Linked DNA regions of Homo sapiens: regions 1 and 2 are each linked to region 3. Evidence: fine-mapped expression QTL. A gene starts in region 3. Each other region holds a variant in brackets. All regions are shown on one strand. Distances are from middle to middle.

Region 1 (2,753 bases), 89 kb after region 3:
AATGTTTTTTTTTTTTTTTTTTTTGACGGAGTCCTACTCTGTTGCGCCAGGCTGGAGTGCAGTGGCGCGATCTTGACTTACTGCAACCTCTGCCTCCCAAGTTCAAGCGATTCCCCTGCCTCAGCCTCCCGAGTAGCTGGGACTACAGGTCCCAGGGACAACACGTGCCACCATGCCCGGTTGAGATGGAGTTTCACTATGTTGGCCAGGCTGGTCTCAAACTCCTGACCTCAGGTGATCCGCCTGCCTCAGCCTCCCGAAGTGTTGGGATTACAGGCGTGAGCCACCATGCCCAGCCAGTCTGGTTTTTTTTTTATTTTTTGAGATGGAATCTCACTCTGTTGCCAGGCTGGAGTGCAATGGCGCGATCTTGGCTCACTGCAATCTCCGCCTCCTGGCTTCAAGCGATTCTCCTGCCTCAGCCTCCTGAGTAGCTGGGACTACAGGTGCATGCCACCACGCCCAACTAATTTTTGTATTTTTAGTAGAGATGGGGTTTCACCATGTTGACCAGGATGGTCTCCATCTCCTGACCTCATGATCCGCCCTCCTCGGCCTCCCAAAGTGCTGGGATGACCGGTGTGAGCCATCATGTCTGCCCTCTCCAACTCTTTCCGCCTCCTCTGGAACAGCTATTAAACATACACTGGACCTTCTCATCTGATCCCACACTGATGTCCAATGCCTGCCACCTTGATCTTTCTAAGTAGCATTTCAGATGACTTCCTTCCATCTACCTCTGTTTGCTAATCATGTCCTTCATTATTTAAAACAGCCATTGCATTCTTCATTTCAATGACTACAGTTTTCACTTTTAGAAATTCTATTTTGTTTCTGTCAAAGGTGCCTGTTTGTGTTTTTATTAACAGTTTCTTGGCTGGGCGTGGTGGCTCACGCCTGTAATCCCAGCACTTTGGGAGGCCGAGGAGGGCGGATCATGAGGTCAGGAGTTCGAGACCAGTCTGGCCAACATGGTGAAACCCTGTCTCTACCAAAAATACAAAAATTAGCCGAGCATGGTAGCAGAAGCCTATAATCCCAGCTACTCGGGAGGCTGAGGCAGGAGAATCACTTGAAACTGGAATGCGGAGGTTGCGGTGAGCCGATATAGCGCCACTGCACTCCAGCCTGGGCAACAAGACCGAAACTCTGTTTTTTTAAAAAGAGCTGGGCGTGGTGGTGTGCACCTGTAGTTCCAGCTACTCGGGAGGCTGAGGCAGGAGAATCTCTTGAACCTGGGAGGCAGAGGTTGCACTGAGCCGAGATTGCATAAATGCACTCCAGCCTAGCAACAGAGGGAGACTCCGTCTCAAAAAAAAAAAAAAAAAAAAGACTTTATGCAAAGCTTTCACAGCCAACTTCCCTTTCCTTAGGAGGGCCCAGCAGCTTTGTCTTCTGTCCCATCTGGGTACTAAAACCCAAGCCTGTTCCTGGCTCTGATAATCCTTCCACTCCACCCTCCT[C/TC]TTTGTGTAATACTGCCAAGGGGCTACACCAAGAGATATGGAAAATAAAACTGACCAGATAGGTCTCCGGCTATTTTTATCTCTAATTACTGTGGCAACTCTGGGGAAACCCCAATTGCCTGGAGAGGTCTACTGTGTTCACCATAAACCATGAAGAATTTAGCTAACAGTTTAATTTTTTACTTTTCCTAGAAAATGTGATTTTTAACCGGCTCGAAACTCTGTTTCCATGATGGAGTTTCACGTTTCAGACACAGCAAGCATGGAGGGAGATTTCTGAGGGCCATGGACTCTTGTCATGAAATCACACCACACACATAAATAGTGGTCTACACCACCAACACGTAAGCAAAGTCCTGGTTTGAAACTATTAGGATTTGGAATAATATGCCATATTTTTGCAAACATATAATTAAACATTAACTCTGTTTCAAAGATTTAGTTCTAATCCTTCTGGTAAATGAAGGTACTTAAGAGTAGAACCCATAAAATAACAAAATAACATAGGGCCAGCTTGGGCAACATAGTGAGACCCTGTCTGTACAAAAAAATAAAGTTAGCCAGACATGGTGGTCCCAGCTACTTGGGAGGCTGAGGTGGGAGGATCATTTGAGCCCCAGAGATTGAGGCTGCAGTGAGCTATGATCACGCCACTGCCCTCCAGCCTGGATGACGGATGGAATCCCTGTCTCAGAAAAACACACAAAAACACCCCCACAGGGGATGACCATTTATGGCCTGAGATTATTCTATAAACCATAATATATGGAGATTTGAGCTCAGGAGTAGTCACCTAATACAGCTTTGACTTGTGAAAAATGCCCCACCTCTTTCCATAGCTTCAGAAAGGAGGTTGCCAATTATTTCCCATTTGCCCTTCTCAGATCCATTCTCTGACCCGCCCTGTGCCCCAGGAAGCTGACCCTAAGGGCTGCACTGTCTTGTCTTTCCTGCCCTCTGGCTGCCAACTGAGTTTGTCATTGGGGAACAAAAGCAGGAGATTTAAGGGCAGGAGGAGGGTGCAGTTGGGGTATTTATTCCGTTTTCTCCTCATCCCACAGCAGGGCCTACAGCCACAACTTCTATCAAGTGACCCCCTCCTCCATGACTATAGCTCTTACCTGATTCTGGTAAGAGGGTCCCCCTCTGTCCCTTTAGGCTCACAGGGAGTAACAGCTTTTCACTGTTGTCTGGTGCAACACTATTCCTTATTGGTTCATTTGAAGTCTCTACACCTCTGTTAACAGTTTCTTTTTTAAACTCATTTCAATTGACCCTTTAAAAAAAATT
Region 2 (2,753 bases), 42 kb after region 3:
AGAGCCACTGAGGAAGAGCGAGGGGAGCCCAGGCCTCTCCCTTCAGACTCCTCTTCTTAGTAGATGGTGCCACTTCCCCCTTTCCTCTTCTCCCCGCAGCCCCGGCCCACGCTGACCCTCTCGCAGGCCCCACAGCCTGGCCCTCGCACCCCTGGCTTGCTGAAGGTTCCTGGCTCCATCGCACTTCCTGTCCAGACACTGGTGTCTGCACGAGCGGCTGCCCCACCACAGCCTTCCCCTCCTCCAACCAAGTTTATTGTAATGTCATCGTCCTCCAGCGCCCCATCCACCCAGCAGGTATGCAGAGCTGTGGGACAGGGAGCATCTGGAGGGCCTGGGTTACCTCAGAGCACCCTGGGGAGGCCCAGGAGTAGAGCACAGTCCCCTCTGGGCCCCAAGTCAAGAGCTGGAAGAGGCGCCCACCAGGGTCCTGCAGGGCTGTAGCTGCCCTGCATGAACAAGGTCTCCAGCCATAGCTGTCTACAGGGTGAACTACAGGAACAACTTGTTCAGGCAGGGAGCGAGTGAAGCGTCCTCGCCAGGCCTCTGGGGGGCAGGGAGGGCACAGGGCAAGCGGCCTGCCTTTCCTTTCTATCCAGGTCCTGTCCCTCAGCACCTCGGCCCCCGGCTCAGGTTCCACCACCACTTCGCCCGTCACCACCACCGTCCCCAGCGTGCAGCCCATCGTCAAGTTGGTCTCCACCGCCACCACCGCACCCCCCAGCACTGCTCCCTCTGGTCCTGGGAGTGTCCAGAAGTACATCGTGGTCTCACTTCCCCCAACAGGGGAGGGCAAAGGAGGCCCCACCTCCCATCCTTCTCCAGTTCCTCCCCCGGCATCGTCCCCGTCCCCACTCAGCGGCAGTGCCCTTTGTGGGGGGAAGCAGGAGGCTGGGGACAGTCCCCCTCCAGCTCCAGGGACTCCAAAAGCCAATGGCTCCCAGCCCAACTCCGGCTCCCCTCAGCCTGCTCCGTGATGCTCCACCTGCCAGCCCCCGGATTCCCACACATGCAGACATGTACACACGTGCACGTACACACATGCATGCTCGCTAAGCGGAAGGAAGTTGTAGATTGCTTCCTTCATGTCACTTTCTTTTTAGATATTGTACAGCCAGTTTCTCAGAATAAAAGTTTGGTTTGTAAGTTCTGATCCACTGCAGTCCTTCCTGCATCAGATACCACAGAAAGGCTGGGCCCATTGCCCCCTCCTGGTCTTGGGACTGAGGACTCTTCCTGCCCAGATTCAGAGTCCGAAGGCCAGGAGGCTGGAAAAGAAACGACTGTCCTCCCGTGGGACAAACTGCCACCTTGGCCGTCGTGTCCTCGTTTGGGGAGCCTCAGATCCGAATGACATAGGCGTCGCTGTGGCTTAGGTGTCGCACCCACTTGTGGGG[G/A]TTGGCATTGCCGCATGGCCTGAAGGCCAGCCTGAGGAATCGGACCTGGAGGCCAGAGCACGTGTGCCGGGGAAGCTCGAAGGAGAGACTGGCAGGGCCCAGCCCCAGAGGAGAGGCCGAGGTGGAGAGCCCATGGCTGGGAGGTCCTGGGGGCCCTGGGACGTCCATCTGTGAGGGGCAGAGGCAGGGAGAGGAAGGAGGGCAAGAAGCTGACCACGCTGGGGGAACCAGGCAGCAGCTGCTTCGGGAGGGTGGGGTGGGGGCTGCAAGTGAATGTGGGAGGAGAGGGGCTGGGGGTCCACAGCGAATACCTGGAAAAGGCCTGAGAGTTGAGAGCCTCCTTGCACCCGAGGCAGGTCCCAGCGAAGGGCTCCCTCTGCCAGCTCAGCCTTCTGCTCTGGGCTGCTCAGCTCCTGAGACAGGCTGGAGTTTGGAAAGGGAAGGTGCTGGGCTTGGCACCTTCTTGAGGCAGACCCGTCATGCTGAGCTCACTCTCTCCCCAGGAATCTCCCCGTGGTGGGTGCACACACTCACCTGACCACCCCTCGAGGCAGGGGGAGGTGCAGCCTGACATTGAGGGCTTGGCTACAGAGGAGACGGGAACAAAGTCAGCCCCAGGAAGGCACAGTCCCTTGTCCTGTTCCTCTTCAATGTCATAACAGGATTTCAGCACAGGTGCCCCCCACCTTCCCAAATTCTACAGCCTCTACCTTAACTGGCTTCTGAGGCTGGCAGCTGCATCTGAAGGGAGAAGCAGCAGGTGCCCTGGCCCTGTCTTCCGTCCCATAGAGCTGAACTCAGCCAGGCCAGCCTCACTCTTACCTCTTTGAGAGCAGGTCACATCGCAACTTTAGATAAACCTGGAGCCTGGATGAGAGGGTAAAACACCACGACTCAGGCCATCTTCTACTGGCATCTCACCATTCCCCACCAGGGACCTCCATGTGGGGCTGTGTGGGTGTGGGCTGTACTCCCAAGAGGGAAAAGGGCTGAAGCCCAGCCCAACTCCATTAGCCAAAGCTTTTTCCTTTTTTTTTTTTTCAGAGAGATGGGGTCTCACTATGTTGCCCAGGCTGGTCTGGAACTCCTGGGCTCAAGTGATCCTCCCGCCTCAGCCTCCCAAAGTGCTAGGATTACAGGTGTGAGCCACCGGCCGCAACCCAAGCCTTTTTCCAATTTGCACTCCATCACCACTACCACCACCCCCACTCTGCAGTGAGTCTTGGGAACATACAGGTCTTGGCTTGGGTTCCAAGGTAGTTCTAGAACCCAGGAAATTGTCTCACCGGCCTGAGCCTCGGTCCCACTGCACAGAGGGGAAGAGCCGGAAGGGGAGCGGTGAGGGGAGGTCATCGG
Region 3 (2,753 bases):
GTTTTCAACCCTTAACCTTAAGCTTTGTCTCTACCTAAGTCAAAAACATCTGGAGACTTAACACTATACAGTACTATGGAACAAAATACAAATGCCTCTTTAAGAAATACCAAATAAAGGCCAGACGTGGTGGCTCACGCCTGTAATCTAGAGACCTAACACCATACAGTACTATGGAACAAAATACAAATGCCTTTTTAAGAAATACCAAATAAAGGCCAGGCATGTTGGCTCACGCCTGTAATCCCAGCACTTTGGGAGGCTGAGGCAGGTGGATCACCTGAGGTCAGGAGTTTGAGACCAGCCTGGCTAACACGGTGAAACCCCGTTTCTACTAAAAATACAAAAAATTAGCAGAGCATGGTGGCACGTGCCTATAATCCCAGCTACTCGGGAGGCTGAGGCAGGAGAATCGCTTGAACCCCGGAGGCGGAGGTTGCAGTGAGCCGAGGTCGCACCACTGCACTCCAGCTTGGGCAACAAGAACGAAACTCAGTCTCAAAAACTATAAATAAATAAATCGCAGCCGTTAGGAGACTAAGATTCCACAGACTGATTACTGAAAGTAATTGCAAAAACTGCAAATACTTTTGTACCAACCTAATAGATGCCAGGCAGGAAACCAGATAAAAGCCGAGAAAAGAAGGGCCAATATTAGAAGGGGTTACCGGGCTGTGTGCACTAAGGGACCCCCTCCCTTTCCCAGAACGCACCGCCAGCACTGCACCTTCACTCAGTACCAGGTAGCCGAGCTGGTCTGGGATTCGCTCCAGCCCCTGGGTCAGCGCAGAAGTCTAGTGGGTAAAGATGCAAGTCGTGAGAAGCATGCTAGAGGGATGGACGGCCCGATACCCTTCACCTGCAAACCCAAGTCTCTGGGTTGACGATGGCCCCAGGTTTTCTCATTCCCCAGCCAGGTCCCTTCCCGGCCCCCTCCCCCCTACATGGTCCTCAATACTGATCTTCCCGAGCCTCCATCTGCCCCCACTCTCGCCCCCGGGCTCCCCTGGCCTTCCACATCCCACCTTTGCTACCCCAAGGGGCCTTTGCTGCCCCACTGGCCCCTGCCCCCAGACCCTCTCTTCACCTCCCTTCGTCTCCGCCCGACCTGCAGACTACCCGCAGCCCCAGAACACCCTCCCACAGACCCCTCCCCAGCATTCTCGTCGCCATCCCTCCCATTTCCATCCCCTCTTCCTCCCCGAGCGGATAGGAGGTGAGGGTGGAGCGCAGGCCCACCAGGGGGAAACCACACAGACTGGGGAGCAGAGACGCTGAACCCCCGGCGGGTCCTCTCGCGCATGCGTCCTCACTCACCATCGCAGTCTTCGGTGCTGGGGGAGCTCCCTACCAGATAGGTAGCTTCCGGCTTCAGGCCCCGGTCACGTGCTTGCAGCCGCTGCGCTCCTCCTTCTGCTTGCGCCACTGGCCTTTAGCCCCGCCTCTAGCATGAGGATTGGACAGTGGCCACGTCGTCAGACCCAACCAGCCAGTGCGAAGCGCTGTTTCCCGGAGGCGCACGTTGATTGGTGATATCCCCTCTTTAACACCCATCTCCCCGCCCCTCAGTGCCTGAGCGAGAGGAAGACGCGGGAGCGTCCGAGGAGGGGAGGATCTGGGAGGGGCGGGAGTAGGCCGGGGTTGACCGTTTGGTCCTGGGCGCACTGTCTGGAGCCAGAGTTCCGCCTGAGCCAGGATGCCCGCTGGTGTGACCCCCCCAAATGAATCCCTTCCCAGGTTTAAGACTGGACCCAAAAACTAGAGAATAAAAGGAAATAACGTGCAATGCATGTGAAAAACTATTCAAGGCTGGGCGCCGTGGCTCACGCCTGTAATCTCAGCGCTTTGCGAGGCCGAGGACGGATCATTTCAGGGCAAGAGTTCGAGACGAGCCTGAGCAACATAGCGAGACCCTCCCCAGTCCCCCCGCTCCAACCACCTCTACAAAAAAATAAGAAAATAAGCCGGGCATGGTGCCTCACGCCAGTAATTCCAGCTACTAGGGAGGCTGATGGAGGAGAATCTCTTGAGCTCAGCAGTTGCAGAGTGCAGTGAGCTATTATGGTGCCACTGCACTCCAGCCTGGGTGCCCTTCCTCTAAAAAAAAAAGAAAAGAAAAGGAAAAAAAAGGTACTCAAATGCTACTTTTTTTTTTTTTTGAGTCGGAGTCTCACTCGGTCGCCCAGGTTGCAGTGCAATGGCGCGATCTCTGGCTCAATACAACTTCCGCCTCCCGTGTTCAAGCAATTCTCCTGCCTCAGCCTCGCGAGTAGCTGGGATTACAGGCGCCCACCACCACGCCCGGCTATTTTTGTGTTTTTAGTAGAGATAGGGTTTCACCATATTGGCCAGGCTGGTCTCAAACTCCTGACCTCGTGATCCGCCCGCCTCGGCCTCCCAAAGTGCTGGGATTACAGGCTTGAGCCACCGCGTCCGGCCCTCAAATGCTACTTTTGTGCCTACTCAAGACAGCTCTTTGTTGAAGACAAGAATTTGTTCCCGAAGTGGTTTTTTTGTCCCCAGATTCAGTCCGGGACAATGTGGTGGTAAATAGAATCCCCAGCTAGCCAATGCAGCTGCAATACTGAATATTCATTCCCTACAGGAAAAAATTAGAAACAGTACCTTGGAATGATACACACACACACACACACACACACACACACACACATCACACAATATATGTAAACATTAGAAATTTTTGTTTTAAATAATTTCTAAACCTGTTGCCATATTAATGTGGTGGAGGCTGT

Evidence for each region. PIP is the estimated chance that this variant, and not a neighbour inherited with it, causes the effect. A credible set is the group of variants that fine-mapping cannot tell apart.
Region 1: its variant is the best candidate, but not a certain one, in a credible set for the expression of LAMTOR4 in monocytes (TOPMed, PIP 0.80).
Region 2: its variant is the best candidate, but not a certain one, in a credible set for the expression of LAMTOR4 in whole blood (TOPMed, PIP 0.88).

What each region holds. Positions count from the first base shown.
Region 1 is chr7:100,058,130-100,060,882 of GRCh38, reverse strand. The region is part of intron 3 of ZSCAN21 (zinc finger and SCAN domain containing 21); the gene reads right to left. Among named protein-coding and RNA genes, the nearest start is that of ZSCAN21, 9.7 kb to the right of the region's middle. RefSeq lists an enhancer at 1,404-1,523. The variant C/TC (reference allele first, on the strand shown) is at 1,464.
Region 2 is chr7:100,105,470-100,108,222 of GRCh38, reverse strand. It overlaps AP4M1 (adaptor related protein complex 4 subunit mu 1), which reads right to left. Exons shown (of 15, transcript NM_004722.4): 11 at 2,684-2,753; 12 at 2,220-2,264; 13 at 1,932-1,982; 14 at 1,709-1,820; 15 at 1-1,565. The coding sequence ends at 1,341. TAF6 (TATA-box binding protein associated factor 6) reads left to right here. Exons shown (of 15, transcript NM_139315.3): 14 at 100-297; 15 at 600-1,153. The coding sequence ends at 977. Among named protein-coding and RNA genes, the nearest start is that of AP4M1, 5.2 kb to the right of the region's middle. RefSeq lists an enhancer at 376-876. The variant G/A (reference allele first, on the strand shown) is at 1,398.
Region 3 is chr7:100,147,540-100,150,292 of GRCh38, reverse strand. LAMTOR4 (late endosomal/lysosomal adaptor, MAPK and MTOR activator 4) reads right to left here and starts at 1,375. Exons shown (of 4, transcript NM_001008395.4): 1 at 1,318-1,375; 2 at 714-794. The coding sequence starts at 1,320. RefSeq lists silencers at 806-895, 906-995 and enhancers at 535-1,147, 1,296-1,405, 1,676-1,735, 1,760-2,372.